Linked DNA regions of Homo sapiens: region 2 is linked to region 1. Evidence: fine-mapped expression QTL. A gene starts in region 1. The other region holds a variant in brackets. All regions are shown on one strand. Distances are between the middles of the regions. Region 1 holds the start of HSD17B6 (hydroxysteroid 17-beta dehydrogenase 6). Region 2 overlaps AGAP2 (ArfGAP with GTPase domain, ankyrin repeat and PH domain 2).

Evidence for each region. PIP is the estimated chance that this variant, and not a neighbour inherited with it, causes the effect.
Region 2: its variant is fine-mapped to the expression of HSD17B6 in minor salivary gland (GTEx, PIP above 0.99).

Annotation. Positions count from the first base shown.
Region 1 is chr12:56,760,154-56,768,485 of GRCh38, forward strand. It overlaps HSD17B6 (hydroxysteroid 17-beta dehydrogenase 6), which reads left to right and starts at 3,171. Exons shown (of 5, transcript NM_003725.4): 1 at 3,171-3,261.
Region 2 is chr12:57,729,442-57,737,773 of GRCh38, forward strand. AGAP2 (ArfGAP with GTPase domain, ankyrin repeat and PH domain 2) reads right to left here. Exons shown (of 19, transcript NM_001122772.3): 1 at 7,638-8,332; 2 at 5,928-5,986; 3 at 5,151-5,238; 4 at 4,878-4,963; 5 at 4,585-4,732; 6 at 3,404-3,538; 7 at 2,962-3,071; 8 at 2,368-2,526; 9 at 2,115-2,201; 10 at 1,925-2,029; 11 at 1,350-1,512; 12 at 1,054-1,173; 13 at 198-326. Among named protein-coding and RNA genes, the nearest start is that of AGAP2, 5.1 kb to the right of the region's middle. RefSeq lists an enhancer at 4,189-5,388. The variant G/A (reference allele first, on the strand shown) is at 4,177.

The sequences.
Region 1 (8,332 bases):
GCCATGTTGGCCAGGCTGGTCTCGAACTCCTGACCTCAACTGATTCACCTGCCTTGGCCTCCCAAAGTGCTGGGATTACAGATGTGAGCTACCATTCCTGGCTCATTGAAGGGTTTTAAGCAGAGTAGAAACATAATCAGAGTTGTGTTTTGTTTGTTTGTTTGTTTATTTATGAGACAGGGTCTCTGTCATCCAAGCTGGAGTGCAGTGGCATGATCATGGCTCACTGCAGCTTCAACCTTCCCAGGCTCAGGTGATCCTCCCACCTCGGCCTCCCGAGTAGCTGGGATTATGGGCATGTGCCACCACACCCGGCTAATTTTTGTATTTTGTGTAGAGACGGGGTTTTGCAATATTGGCCAAGCTGGTCTCGAACTCCTAGGCTCAAGTGATCTTCCCACCTCGGCCTTCCAAAGTGCTGGGATTACAGGTGTGAGCCACCGCCCCCGGCCTCAGAGTTGTGTTTTATAAATAAACTCTGGAGCCCTGTAGAGGGCAAATAGGAGGGTAGAGAGAAACCAGAGGTGGAGCAATCCTAGCAGACTGTTGCCGGAAACCAGGTGAGAAATACTGATGGCCTGAGCTAAGGCAGTAAAGTGGAGATGGAAGGGATGGGATGGACATAATGACTTTAAGGAGGTAGAATTAATATTGATTGGACATGGGGGATGAGGAAGGGGTCTAGGATGATTCCCAGGTTTCAGACTTGGGCAACTGGATGGAAGGGAGTTGCCTGGCATCTATTAAGCACTTATTAAATTTGTTGAATACATATGCAGATAGGAAATAACATGAAAATGAGGAGGACCAGATTGCAGTGAATCATCATCATTTTAGTTTTGAATGTGTTGAGTTTGAGGTACTGTTGTGATTCTCCCTAAGTACGATTTTACTACGGGGTCGTACTGTGACTCGTCACATTTAATATAAGACAAAAAATGAGCAAAAGATTTGAATAGGCATTTCACCAGAGAAGACAAACAAATAGCCAATAAGCACATGAAAGGATGCTCAACATCATTAATCATTAGGGAAATGCAAATCAAAACCACAGTGAGATATCAATCCATACCAACTAGGATGGCTAAAATAAAAAAGATAATATGGCCAGGCACGGTGGCTCATGCCTGTAATCCCAGCACTTTGGGAGGCCGAGGTGAGTGGATCACTTGAGGTCAGGAGTTTGAGACCAGCCTGGTCAACATGGCGAAAACTCGTCTCTACTAAAAATACAAAAATTAGCTGGGTGTGGTGGCATGCACCTGTAATCCCAGCTACTCAGGAGGCTGAGGCAGGAGAATCACTTGAACCCAGGAGGAAGAGGTTGCAGTAAGGTGAGATTGCACCACTGTCCTCCAGCCTGGGTGACAGAGTGAGACTCCCTCTCAAAAAAAAAAAAAAAAAAAAAAAGATAATAAGTGTTGGTGAGCATGTGGAGAATTTGGAACCCTCATATGAAGCTGGTGAGATTGTAAAATGGTGCAGCCTCTTTGGAAAACAGTTTGGGAATTCCTCAAAATGTTAAAAATAGAGTTATCATTTGACCCAGCAATTTCACTCTTAGGGTACATATATCCAAGAGAATTGAAGGCCCATGTCCACACAAAAAATCTGTATGTAAATATTCGTTTCAGCATTATTCATAATAACACAAAAAAGCAGAAACAACCCAAATGTTTATCAGTTGATGGATGCATAAACAAAACGTGGAATAGCCACACAATGGAATATGATTCAGACATTAAAATGAAGTACTGATAAATAGATGAACCTTGAAAACATTATGCTAAACAGAAGAAGCCAGTCACAAAGGTCACATATTGTGTGATTCCATTTATATGAAGTGTCCAGAATAGGCAAATCCACAAACATGGAAAGTAGATTACTGGTTGCCAGGAGTGGGGTGTGGGAGGAAAGAATGGGAGGTGACTGCTAAGGAGTATGGGGTTCTTTTGGGATAATAAAAGTATTCTGAAACTAGATAGTGATGATTGTTGCACAACCTTGTGAATATACTAAAACCCATTGAATCGTACACTTCAAAAGAGTGAATGGTATGATATGTGAATTATGCCTCAATAAAGCTGTTACTTAAAAAAAAAATATATATATATATATATACACACACACACACACACACACACACACACACACACAACCCTAGGTCCAGGGCTCAAGCTATGAAACAGCTGCAGTTCTTTCAGAAAGGTGACTGAGCCAGCCCCAGCTTGCAGCAGCTGATCTCAGGTTGGCAGTCTTAAGAAGTGGGCTTTGCTAAAATCAACCTGCCCTCTGACCCCATTCCAGCAGGGGATTTGCATTGTAATATTCCAGTTTAAATTAGAGGATGGGACCAGGCACGGTGGTACACGCCTGTAATCCTAGAACTTTAGGAAGCTGAGGCAGGCAGATCGTTTGAGCCCAGGAGTTCGAGACCAGTGTGGGCAAGCTGGTGAAACCCCATCTCTACAAAAAACAAACAAACAAACAAACAAACAAAAAAACTCAAAATTAGTTGGGCATGGTGGCGTGCACCTTTAGTCCCAGCTACTCTGGAGGCTGAGGTGGGAGGATCACTTGAGCCTGGGAGGTCGAGGCTGCAGTGAGCCCAGATTGTGCTACTGCACTCCAGCCTGAGTGACAGAGGGAAACCCTGTCTCAGTAATTAAATAGAGGGCTGGGTGCGTCAGCTCATGTGTAATCCCAGCACTTTGGGAAGTCAAGGCAGGTGGATCACTTGAGGCCAGGAGCTCGAGACCAGCCTGGCCAACTTGGTAAAACCCCATCTCTACTAAAAATACAAAAATTTTTACAGGCGCCTGTAACCCCAGCTACTCCAGAGGCTGAGGCAGGAGAATTGCTTGAACCCGGGAGGTGGAGGTTGCAGTGAGCCGAGATCATGCCACTGCACTCCAGCCTGGGTGACAGAGCGAGACTCTGTCTCAAAAAAAAAAAAAAAAAATTAGAGGATGGGGGCTGAGGAGCATACAAGACTCTCTGGTCAGGGCAGCTCTTTTCTTTCTTTCTGTTTTTCATTTTGGTAGTAACAGATCTGATTCTGCAGCTGATCAAGGATGACACTGGTGAGAACCCTATGAGGGAGTGAAGCAGCCTGGACTCTTACCACAAGAGGGAGGTGTTATAAGAGCAATGCAGAGGTTGGAGTGGGCAGCAGTTGGGGCAGGAGGAAGCCGACTGCTGCCTGGTCTGCAAAGAAGTCCTTTCAAGTCTCTAGGACTGGACTCTTCCTAAGCAAGTCCGGTATGTAGGTGGGTAAGGGTGGTTGTGTGTGTGTGTGTGTGTGTGTGTGTGTGTGTGTGTGTGTGTGTAGGGGATATGGGATATGGTCTGTTTGGAGACAGGTTTTGATTATGATTTTTTATCATCTTAAAAGATCCTTCAACTTTGATTCGTGAAAGAAATTTTGTCACGATTGCTTGCTCTGCTTTTTTGATCTTTACTCCCATGAAGTTTGGGAGAGTACTGGTTACAAGTTGGGAGTGATTTCATACTTACAAATAGGGACTCTGGGTATCCTCTGAAAACGGGATTCTCGGCAGTGGGGGAAACAAGCTCTTTAATGGTTAATGCTGATAGCTGTTGGGTAAGTTTGTGAAACTTTGGGTAAGCGGAAAGGGGCCTTCTGTGATTGGGCCAAGATCCCAGAACTCTGAGAGGTTGAGGAGTGAGGATCCCTTGAACTCAGGAGTTTGGGACCAGCCTGGGCAACATGATGAAACCCTGTCTCTACAAAAAATACAAAAAATTAGCTAGGTGTGGTGGTGCACACCTGTGGTCCCAGCCACTTGGGAGGCTGAGGTGGGAGGATCACCTGAGCCCAGGAGGTCGAGGCTACAGTGAGCTGTGATTGCACCACTGCACTCCAGCCTACATGACAGAGTGAGACCGTGTCTCAAAAAAAAAAAAAAAAAAAAAAGAAGAAAGAAAAAAAGAAAAAAAAAAGAAAATCAAAAAGAAAAGAAAAAACAATTATTGACTTGAGGAATACTTAGCCTGTATGCCCAAGTGGGAAGAAAAGAATGTCATGGTGGATCAGTTCAGGGAGCCATGTGCTGTTTACAGACTTGCTCTTAGGATCAGTGACTAAGCTGACTGGAGTTTATAGACAAACCCATGTCTGAAGATTTTAACCAAAGAAGGGAATAAAGGCTACTTCTTACTTTGCCATGTATTATATTGCAGAGAGAGAGGTCCTCGCTTGAGACAGAAGGAAGTTAAGGTGCACGAGCATGGCCCAAAATAGTGATAAAGAGCTGATAGAAATGATTAAGGATGTTGCAATATGTGGAGTTATGCATACTGTAGAAAAGTGGTGGTGTAATGCACCAGATAATGCACATTCCCATGGCACAGTTTCCTTCTATGAAAGCTCAGGGGAAGAGACAGGGCTCAGGGAGAAAGGCAATATGGCAATAATAAGACAACAACTACCCAAAATAATACTAATATCTAACAATTATGTATTGCTTTACATGCATTAACTTATTTAACCCTCTCAATAAATCACTGAGGTTTCTTTTTCCCATTTTGAACACGAGCACACAGGAACAGAGGCCAGTTCACTTACTCAAGGCTGCAGAACAAGTAAATCTCGAAGCCTGATTTTGAACCCAGGCCATCTGGCCTCAGAGTCTATGCTCATGATTCTATTTTTTATTTTTTTCTTTTGAGAGAGAGTCTCACTCTGTCTTCCAGGCTGGAGTGCAGTGGCATGATCTCAGCTCATTGCGGCCTCTGCCTCCCAGGTTCAAGCTATTCTCCTGCCTCAGCCTCCTGAGTAGCTGGGATTCCAGGCGCCCGCCATCACACCTGACTAATTTTTGTATTTTTAGTAGAGACGAGGTTTCGCTATGTTGGCCAGGCTGGTCTTGAACTCCTGGCCTCAAGTGATCTGCCTGCCTCGCATCCCAAAGTTCTGGGATTAAAAGCATGAGCCACCATGCCTGGCCTCATGATTCTATTTAAGAAAATTTTTTTTTAGGCTGGGTGCGGTGGCTCACGCCTGTAATCCCAGCACTTTGGGAGGCTGAGGCAGGCGGATCACGAGGTCAGGAGTTTGAGACCAGCCTGGGCAATATGGTAAAACCTTGTCTTTACTAAAAAATACAAAAATTAGCCGGGCATGGTGTTGCATGCCTGTAGTCCCAGCTACTCAGGAGGCTAAGGCCGGAGGATCGCTGGAACCTGGGAGGCAGAGGTTGCAGTGAGCTGAGATCACGCCACTGCACTCCAGCCTGGCGACAGAGCAAGATTCCGTCTCAAAACAAACAACAACAAAAACAAAAACACACACACAAAAAACCAATCCTTTTTTTTCTTATTATCTATTTATTAATTTTTCCAAACAGGGTGTTGCTCTGTTGCCCAGGATAGAGTGCGGTAGTGCAATCATGGCTCACTGCAACCTCGACCTCCCAGGCTAAAGTGATTCCCACCCCCTCCCCCCACCGTGTCAGCCTCCAGAGTAGCTGGGACTACAGGCACTCCCCACCATGCCTGCCTAGTTTTTGTATTTTTTGTAGAGATGGGATTTTGCCATGTTGCTCAGGCTGGTCTCGAACTCCTCAAGGAATTCGCCTACCTCAGCCTTCTAAAGTATTGGGATTACAAGTGTGAGCCACTGTGCCCAGCCTCATGATTCTATACTATCCACAAAATCAGGGTTGGGGCAGGAAAGCTCATGCAGAGAGGTTCTTGGAAAGAAAGAAAAGGAAAGGTGTCAGGCCTCTGAGCCCAAGCTAAGCCATCACATCCCCTGTGACCTGCATGTATACATCCAGATGGCCTGAAGCAACTGAAGATCCACAAAAGAAGTGAAAATAGCCTCAACTGATGACATTCCACCACTGTGATTTGTTCCTGCCCCACATTAACTGAGTGATTAACTTCGTGAAATTCCTTCTCCTGGCTCAGAAGCTCCCCCACTGAGCACCTTATGACCCCCACCCCTGCCTGCAAGAGAAAAACCCCCTTTAAATGTAATTTTCCGCTACCCACCCAAATCCTATAAAATGACCCCACCCCATCTCCCTTTGCTGACTCTCTTTTCGGACTCAGCCCGCCTGCACCCAGGTGAAATAAACAGCCTTGTTGCTCACACAAAGCCTGTTTGGTGATCTCTTCACTGGGACGCGTGTGACAAAAGGTAGTCGGAATCATCCAGAGTAGTCTTGTTGGTATCTCCATTTATTAGTGCTCTGTACTTGCCATGTTCCAGGTCTTTGCTCTCACTATTCCCTTTGCCTGAAATGCCCTGGTTCCCAATCTCTGCATGTCAAATACCATCTGTCCTCCAAGGCTCAGCAAATCATACTTCCTTCATTTTAAAGCTCTTTGGTTTTGATGGAACATAGGCAGTGTGAGAAAGAGGAGGGGGAGAAAAGGTCAAGATCCAATCATGGAGGGCCTTGTACAACTAAGGTTTTAGATTTAGATTTTCAGTAGGTTGAATGCTATTCAGGGAGTGACATCGGCAGAGCTGCGCTTTAGGGAAATTAACCAGACAGCCCTATGTGGATGAGAGGGGAAGTGAGAGTGACACTGTGGGGTTAGTGAGAAAGCTTCTGTGATAGGCCAATCAAGAGGCATTGAGGAGTCCTTGCATTTAGGGTAGAGAAGGGAGAGGAGGAGCTGGGAGGGGTGAAGGGGAAGGGACGCTGTCTGTGACTGCTGTAGGAGAACGGGAGTAGAGCATCTCAGAAGTGAACGGAGAAGCGTGTGCTTCAAATTGGGTAGTCAGAAGGATTAAACTATGGCTTCTGGCTGTGAGAGACAGGAGCCAAGGGGCAAACGTAGGCCATGGCCTGACCATGAAAAATCAGCTAATTTTTGTATTTTTAGTAGAGATAGGGCTTAGTCATGTTGCCCAGGCTGGTCTTGAAAGGGAAAGGCAGTGTAGTGCAGTGGTTAGATGCAAGGCTTCTGCAGGTGAACACTCTGGAGTTGATCCTGTCTCTACTATTCACTCTGTTTCACCTTGGAAAAGTCACTTAATTCTTGCCTTAATCTGTGCTTCAGTTTCCTCATGTGAAAAGTGGGCATAATAATTGCATACACTGCCAGGCGCGGTGGCTCACGCCTGTAATCCCAGCACTTTGGGAGGCTGAGGTGGGAGGATCACGAGGTCAGGAGATCGAGACCATCCTGCCTAACACGGTGAAACTCTGTCTCCACTAAAAAATAAAAAAAAAAAATTAGCCGGGCGTGGTGGCAGGCGCCTGTAGTCCCAGCTACTCGGGAGGCTGAGGCAGGAGAATGGCGTGAACCTGGGAGGCAGAGCTTGCAGTGAGCCGAGATCGCGCTACTGCACTCCAGCCCGGGGACAGAGCGAGACTCCCTCTCAAAACAAAACAAAACGAAAACAAAAAAAAAACAAAAACAAAATAATTGCATATACCCTCTATTGTGTATATATATTATATATATACACATACATATATTAATATATAACATATATATTATATTAATATATTATATATATTATATATATAGTGTATATATTATATATACACAATAGAGGGTATATTATATATACACATATATACACACATATATAATATATATGTATTATATATACGTATATATATGTGTATATATTGTGTATATTATGTATATATAATATATATGTGTGTATATATAATATATATGTGTGTATATATGTGTATATATAAAAATATATGTGTGTGTATACGTGTATATATACACGTATATACACATATATATACAATGTATACACACACGTATACAATATACACACACACACATATATATGTGTGAAACCATGTGTGTGTGTGTGTGTATATTGTGTATATATATATATGGTTTCACACAGTGCCTGGCAAGGAAAGTTCTCTATAACTGTTCACTATTATTATCGTGTGTCAAGCTGAGGAGTTCTGACTTTATCCTGTGGGTGACAGGGAGTCACAGACAGAATCCAATGAGAGCATGGCACGATCTGAAAGCAATCTTCTTCTTCTTCACTGAAGGCCAGGTTAGGATCTAAGAATCAGATAAAATCATAAGAAAAAAGAATGTGCTAAATATTGCAGTGAGGTCTGAGGAGAAGAGAGAGGAAGCCTTGGGAATTGTCTGCTAATAGGTCCTTGGTGAGCTGTGAGAGAGTTTCCAGAGAGTGATGGGAATGGAAGGTGAAGTGCAAGGAGCTCGTGGGTGGCAAGAAAATAGAGGGCCTGTGCTTGCCCTTTGAATATTTTGGCCATATGGGGAAGAGAGAGGATGGTTATTAAAGGGGTGGCAGGTTAGGATGGTCTTAGGGAGGATGAAAGGCAGAAGAAAGAGGATAGAAGAC
Region 2 (8,332 bases), 970 kb after region 1:
AATTAGCTGGGGAACAAGGAAAGAAGGACAGGGGCTGGGGGATGTCCATCCACTCTTTCACTAAGTTGTGTGCAGTGGTAATGGTAGTCAAGCACTCAGCTCAGGCACTTTTCCTCCTGCTGCAGGAGTTAGGCCAGGGAGCTGATGTTGGGGATGAGGGTTCTGGGTGGGAGTGGAAGTGCCTGCCAGAGCCTCACCTTCAGCCTGCCCAGCCGAGCCTTCAGTCTTGGATGGTGTTGTCAATTTTTTCCTCCTCTGCTTCTTCACCATGGGAGAAGGAGGGGGTTCCCGACTCAGGGGGCTCAGGTCTCCAGATGGGGTACAGTCTTAGGGAGGAAGACACAGCTGCCTCAGTAGCCCCCTCCACAGATTTCCTGATTTCTTGATAGCCTGTCTCATTCCCTGAACTAGCTTTGGCATTTTAGGGCTCCCCTCCTCAACTGTCCCTCTCCAGGAGTTCCCCCTTGATCATTCCTGGGGATGCAGGGAGATGAGAGGTTTAGAGTCAGTCCTGCACTCAGATCCTGGTTCTGCCACTTACTGGCCTTAAGACCTTGAGCAAGGCACTTAATCTTCTGAGCCTCAGTTTCTTTATCTCTGAAATAGGGGTAATAATCTTGACCTGACAAAACTGTTGTAAGGATCATTTGTTTACAATGTTATTTGCATACTATATATATATATTTTTTTTCAAACATGTCAAACATGGCTGACTATGTACTAGACAATATTCTCAGTTTGTTTAAACCTCAAAGCAACCCTCTGAGGTAGAAACTATTATCTCCATGTTACAGATGAGGAAACTGAGGCACGGAGAGGTCAAGTAACTTGCCCATGTGGCAAGCCAGGATTCAAGCTCAGGCAGTTGACGTTAGAGTCCACTTGTCTTAACCATTATGATAGACATGGTATGATTGAACTTATTCATGTGTGGGGCTCCATGTGTTCACTCATGCATTTATTCCAGCCTCCAAGCCTTCACCCCATATTCATTTCCCACACTCATCCTATTTGGGTGTGGAAGACAGCAGATGGAAGGTCATCCCCACTGACCCGTGCTGAGGGCTCGGGCCAAATTCCGGTCTGGCTTCAGCAGGTGTTTGGATGTCTGATCTGGTGGTGGCTGCAGGGAACTGGGGCTGGGGCTAGGGCTTGGCATGGGAGTAGTGGCTTCTGTCGGAAGAAGATGAAACCTCAGTGAGCCTCTTTCTTCTGGCCCCATTCCTTATGTGGTCCCTCTTTATCACCCAGCTTCCTACTCGCCCAGTGCCAGCCCCCTCTTCCCTCTTACCCCTCTTTTTCCCCAGCCCTGGCCCCTCTTCTGCTCCTATGTCATAAACCTTACTCACCCAGGCCTTCACCCATCTGGACAGTGCTCATGTCCTTGACGAGCCCGTTAATGCTGGCTGAGGGGCCAAAGGCAGAGATGGCCCTCGGGGGCCGCTTGCCCGGGACTTTGACTGTTGTTCGCAGCAAGTCCATCTCCTTGCCGTGGGTACTGTGGATGTAATCCTGGAGGGGTACAGGGCCGAGAGTGTAGGGAAGGTTGGGGTCCTTGGTATGCTGGGAAGCAGTCAACATGGTACAGAATAGAGAGGGACTGGGGAGGGGTCTTGGGGGCCAAATGGGTTGTGATGAACATCTAGGGGATGGGCCCATCAGACTTGGCCCAGCAATTGTCTCCTCCAGAAAGCGTTCCCTTCCTGGGTGCTCTCCCACTAGACTGCAAGTTCCTGGGGCAATGTATTTACCTTTACATTCCTGGCATGGGCACATGGTGGGCTCTTAACACATGCCTGCTAAACTTAAGAGAAGAGGACTAGCACTTCCTAGAAATGAGGTTAGTGCTTTGTCAGAGGCATAGACAGGTAGAACTTGAGGGAAATCCAAAGCTGGCCAATGTGGCCCAGTCTCTGCCACTCACGTTAATACTGGGGTGGTAGAGTAGAAAGCCATTACTGGACAGGGTTACATATTTCTTCTTCCATTCTTTGTTCAAGGAATTGCCACTTCGTTTTAGTAGGAAGCTCTGGAGAAAGGGGAAAGACACATGTGGGAAAAAAGCCAACTAAGACCAGCTGCCCCTAGCCTGTCCCAGCCCCTGGATCACTCACCTGTTTGATGGGGATGGCTCGCCCACTCCCTGTTGTCTCTCCCCGACTATCCAAGCTTCGTTTCTCGGAGTCACTACCCCGACGATTCTGGAATGGTTATTGGAATCAGTTTGAGGATGGATAGAGGGATACACTGATGTGACGATAGGGAAGATAGATGAAGAAGGGCCCAACAGAGGAGTCTAGGGACTAGGGAAGATGGGCAGGTCATGGGGGACAGGAGGATGGGGGTCAGCATGTCCATGTCCAATACCGCAAAAAGGCTGGTCCTGCGCTTGGCTGCCCGGTGCAGGGACCCTGGGGTGCTCAATCCAGCCACTGCAGCTGCCTCGGCTCGGAGCTCCCGGTGACCAACATTCGGTGAGGACGGGAGGGAAGAAGAGTAGTCGCTAGTGTGGCCCCCGTTACTAGCCTGGGCACATATGGAAGAGTCAGCAGAGCTGAGATGCCCCCTACTCCACCAAGCTACACTCATATCTCGTTATGGGGAATTTGAGACATTCCTTGATCACCTCACCATTTATTTATGTTGTCATTAATAATTTTTAAAATCCTCACTAACATTGTGACAATGCTTTAAATGTTGTAAAGGTTGATTCACAAGTATTGTGTCATACAATCTTCCTGATAGCCTTGGGAGGTTAGGTGAGTTGCTTAAGGACACTGCAAATGATGTCTCAAATCTGGTTGATTTCCAGTCCAATGCACTTTCTGCCAATAGTTTCACTGCCATTTCCATCTGTTTCCCCACTCCCTGAACCTCCTTGGGTACTCTGTACCTGTCCTAGGATCCCCAGCCCCTCTGCATCTTACCGGCCCCTCTGCAGACTCTGAAACCCCAACTCACCTGGCCAGCTACCGGAGTGGATGCAGCTGAGTGGCTTGGGGAGCTGGGCAGGGACTTGCAGGCAGCCAGAAGCTGTTGCTGCTTGCGCAAGGTCACCACCTTCTGGGCCACTGAGGGGAGTTGACGGAAGGAGGTGTGAGCAGGCCAGATACCCAAGACCACCCTTCCATGCCCAGCTTTGAGAAATCCCCAGTAGACAACACAGGACCCAACTTCCTTGTCACTGTGGCCTCCATGCCACCTGTGGCCTTGCCAGCTCCTCCAGCCCAGAAAGACCTTGCGACTATTAAGCAAACCTTCTCTGGCCTCCCTGATCTCTCCTCCCTCCCACAAAGGCTAATTTCCTGTCACTCACAGAGAGAGGCCTGGATGCCTGACCACTGAGAATATCCCAGGCCCCTTGCTCTGGCTTCCCACATATGCTGGAGATCACTACACTCACCCTCCTGGAAGACCCGATCCACATTGAGCCCATAGGTTGCACAAGTCTCATAGTAGCTGCAGCGTTTCATGTCCGCGCACAGAGCTCTGGCACGAGCATCTCCCACCACCCGAGGGGAGGAAGCACTGATCCTGTCTGAGGGGACAGGAAAGGGGCAGGATTGAACAAGGAGCCCCACCTTGTTCGATTTTTCACAATTCCCTTATCCTTGCACTGGGCCCTCAGGCTGGGTCCACTGGGGATGGGGTGTGAGAGATCATCTTTTCTGTGACCAGGTGGAATGGGAGTACATAAGCCCTTTCTGAGTACTGGGCCCAGTTCACACACCTAGCTGGGTGAGCTGTGTGTGTGTGTGTGTGTGTGTGTGTGTCCTCAAGGAATACTCCAGAGCTGCTGAGTGGTGCTTCCTGACAAGGTCTACATAGCTGAGACCCAGGCGCGAGCGACAATCACCCTGCCCTGCAAATCCATAGAACCCTGAACTGGTGGGAGGACACCAGCTTGTGAACTAGGAAAAGGTTGGGTGCCCATGGGTCATGGCTGGACTGCCCACTCTGCAGCAAGAAACCAGGATGCAAGCAACAGGTGGAGATAGGCACCAGCAGAACAGGCATCCAGACCAAGTCCCACCAGCTCGACACAGGGGAGTGCTGGAAAAGCATTTCCTGGCCCTGGCAGAGTCTGGGAGCCTCTGAGTCACTTCTCTGAGAACTAAAAGGTTTTCTGCTCTCTTCTTTTCATCATCATTTCCTTTGTGTTTTCACTTTGTTTTT[G/A]GATAAGTTCCTTTAAAAGGTGTCAGCCTTACCCAGCTGTCGCAAAAAGGAAGATGGAAAAGGTTTCCTATCCACCCTAGGACTTGAGATTTTCTGTGTCCTAGGATGGTGGCACTAGGAAATGGCAGTGTCAGAACACAAGGTAGGTGACATTTCAGGAGAGGCAAGGAGATGGCTACTATAGCTGTCCTTTCCTCCCTGGAGATCCCCTTTTCTCTGCTCAGACCTTGGGAAGTTATTGTTTGGTTTCATGACTCCCTTATTTGGAGACCAGGCTCCCTCCAGAAGGGTACTATAATCCAAGTGGCCATTTCCACACCTTACCAAGTTCTCACCCATGTTGGGCAATATCCCAGTAGCCTCCTTAGGGCCTCCCTTGAAAGCAGTGCTTTCCTAACCCCTCCTTACCTTGTGTCCCCACCAGTGCCAAGGCCAGGCCTCCTCGTCCCTCCCCGCGAAGGGAACTCAGCTGCCCATGGAGACGGCTCACAGCCTGGAAACTGTTCTCATCCTCCAGGCTGAAGACGAAGATCACAGCATCTGCCCAGCCTGAGAACTTGCGGGGAGTGAGGGAGCAAATGGAAAGTCAGACAGGTCTACTCCTCTGGACCCAATCCAGATGAAGACCTGGGAAACCAGAGCCCTCTCCTTTGGCCAGTGCTGACCCCAGCCAGCCTGTCCCCCACCACCTCCACCCTCACCTTGGCATCAGGTGCCCCAGCTTCCTCTCGGATTAGCACCAGATGTGTCTGTCCATCCACCAACATTTCTTTCTTGTACTGCTCACCTGTCCAGAAGAGTTGGAAGGGGTAACAGGTCAGAGGTGACAGGTCACCAAACCTCCCCATGCTCCCAGTGCTTTTGCTATTATGGCCTCATCCTTCCCCCCTGGTCTCCACACCTGCCTAATCATTGATCTCACTCCTGGATCCCTGACCCCAATGGTTAGCTTACTATGGCTCTTCAGAACTCACTCTCTGTCTTCTCCAGCACCTGGTATGAGCCAGTCAGGAATCGGTGGATGAGCGATGACTTCCCACTCCTGGCATCGCCCAGCACACCCTGAGGGCAAGGTTGTGGAGCAGAAATTGTGGGATATAAGAGAAGGCAGGATGCATGGGTCTGGACACTCCAGAAAACCCAGAGAGATAAGTCATCCAAGCAGGACCCTACAGGGCCTGGATGACAGTCATTCCAGAGAGAGCAGTTGGGAGGATCAGAGCAGCTGGGGGGATCAGAGCAGTTGGGAGGATCAGGGCATGAGTGTGGTAAGAAATGATCCCAAGCTCAAAGTGGAGCACGAGCTGAAGAATGTCAGCAATTCAGTACCAGCTTTTTTGTGTGTTGGGTTGTTTAGAAAACATACTAGATATGTTGTGTGTGTGTGTCTCTGTGTGTGTGTGTTTGTAGCATGTCACAGCTCTAGGCACTAGTTGGAAAACTTTACCCAATTCTAGGCAGTACAACATGAAGGCCAAAGGGCAGATACCAGAAATGAGAAGCCTGGAGGAGGACCATGAACAAACAGGAAAAAGGGGATGGCTGCATAAAGACTAGATAGGAAAAACTTGTGAGGAGGCTGTAGCAAACCCCATGTTGGTGCTATGAAGGCAGACTCTCAGGAGAACTGGAAAACGATTCCCTATTCCCAAAGAGAGAGAGAGAGAGAAGGAGAGGTGAAGGGAGAGAGCTGAGAGTGCAGTGGGTGGGAGGTCAGCCTTCCCTATAGGCAAGGGGACTGGGTTACCTACCAGGCGCAGTTCAGGAATGGAGCGGCTCAAAGTCCATTCCTGGCTATTGATCACAGCCTCTGTAACGGGAGAAGGGCAGTAAGAGGGGAGGCTCCTGGCTCAGAAGGACCCCCAACACTGAGCCACCCCTCCTCCCTCTGCAGCTTTCCAACCCCCCCCCAACCCTGCCTGCACTGGAGAGGTGTGTGCAACAGACAGGTTTGAGGGTGGTCCCCAGGCCTCCCATCCCAGCCACTCTCCCCCAGCTGTTGCTGCCGCTCAGTGGTTGCTTAGCAACGGAGCTAGCAAGACAAAAATACTTCAGTTGGCATCTCCCTTAAAGCACATCCCCAAACGCGGGTCCTGGCCCCAGACAGGGAGACCAGGGCTCTGACAGTGGCAGGTTCTTCCCTCTGGAAAAAGAATAGAAGAGGAGCTCCTCCCTAACCCACTGGTTCCCAGGGCAGACCCTGGGAGGAGGTGCTGAAACACAGAAGAGAGTGTGTCTTCCCCAACCTCCATTCCACAGGAGAGAAACTGAGGTGAGGGGTTTCCCTCCCCTTCTTCAAGGTCAACGGCACTGTAGCCCTGGACCCCTCCCCACAGCCCAAGGGAAAGAGCTAGGATTTTCCTATGCCTCCATCTCCCACACCCTCCCCACAAACGCCCTCCAAAAGAACTGTGGGGAAGGGCTCCATCGCCTGGCCGAGAGAAGCCACAGGCCCGGGGGAAAGGATGCTCCTTCCGCCAGCCAGGTCCAGCCCCCGCGCCTGACACCGGCCGGACGTTCCCGGGGCGCCGCAGCTGCGGCGGGAACTCTGGGATCCGGAGCCATCTGCTCCCACCCGCTCCGGAGCCAAACCCCGGGGGCCGCCTCCGCTCCCGGACCCGCCTCCTCTCCCGGGAGTGTGAGCCGAACCAAGAGTCTCCTGCCTATCTCCTCCAGTAGGAAAATAGTAATAATAATAGACACCCTGCCCCCGTAAAAAACACTACCTTCCCCGTACCGCCTCCCAAGTCTCCCGGGGTACGGATTGCCTTTGCAGCAGTTCCGCCCCACCTGACTCACTCCAGGGTCAGCCCCGGGTGGGTTTCAATGCGGCTCTGGGGAGGGGGTGGGCAGTGGGGGAAGTGAGGCTTCCTATCCGCCCCCTCTCACTTCACATTTAAATATTCTGCACGTTCCAGCCCCCGCGGACTCGCGTACCGCCCAATCCGCCTTCACCGCACGAAAAACATCACTAGCCTGCTCTCAGCCCAGGGGACGACTAGTCCCTGGCGAGAAGCTGCCTGCAAGGTCACTGTCATGCCACCTGCCCCAAGTGCTCAGGGGAAACTGAGGCTTCCTCATCCCCTTCACCTTCAACGTCGCTCTAAACACGGCAAAGCCCCGTTTCCATGCTCCCAGAGTTCAGCTGAGGCTGGAAGTGGGGTCCTGGGCTTCTCTGGGAGCAATTTTCTAGTCACTCTGATCAAGGACGTTACTTTCCCAGAAAGCTCTGAGGCTGAGTCCCTCTGAAATCAAGTCCTTTCTCCTGTCGCACAATGTAGCTACTCGCCCCGCTTCAGGACTCCTATTCTTTGCCCCAATCCTTGACAGAGGGGTGAGCTTGGTTCATCCGCCCACCCCAGAGAAAAGCTTCCCTAGTTTCCTGGACCTCGCTCCTCCACCCCAAGCTGAGCATTCCAGGTACCCTTCCCTCCCTGTTCTCAAGCCCTGACTCAACTCACTAGGGGAAGCGCGGAGCTCGGCGCCCAGCAGCTCCCTGGACCCGCTGCCAGAAGACAGGCTGGGGGGTCCGGGAAGGGGCCCGGAGCCAGGAGGCCCTCCTGTGCTCTTGGTGAAGATGCCGCTGATAAACTTGAGCATCTTGCGGTCACGAGTGGATGCTCGGCCCCCCTCCCGGCCCCGTTTCAGCCCCGGAGCTGGAGGCTCCAGAGTGATTGGAGGTGCAGGCCCGGGGGGCTGCGCGGAAGCAGCGGTGACAGCAGTGGCTGGACTCGGAGTTGGTGGGAGGGTTAGCGGAGGAGGAGAGCCGGCAGGCGGTCCCGGATGCAAGTCACTGTTGTCCAAGGTCTTACTCTTGCCTTTCCGAGGGGACAACTTCCCTCGGGCTCCAGCCCCAGCCCCGACCCCACCAGAGGTCGAAGCTGTAGAGCCCCCTCCCCCGGCGGCGGCGGCGGTGGCGGCGGCAGAGACCGAAGCTCCAGTCCCGGCGCTGCTCTTTGACCCCTTGACCCTGGGCTTGCCCTCGCTTTCGGGCCATGACAGGCGGCTACCCGCGCCCTTGCCCCCGCCGGCTTTGGCTCCACTCGTGGTCACGGTCTTGCAAGGCTTGGGAGCCGGCGGAGGAGGCGCCACCTTGAGCCTCCGGCTGCCGGTGCCAGGGTGCGGAGAGGATGAGCCAGGGATGCCGCCGCCCGCC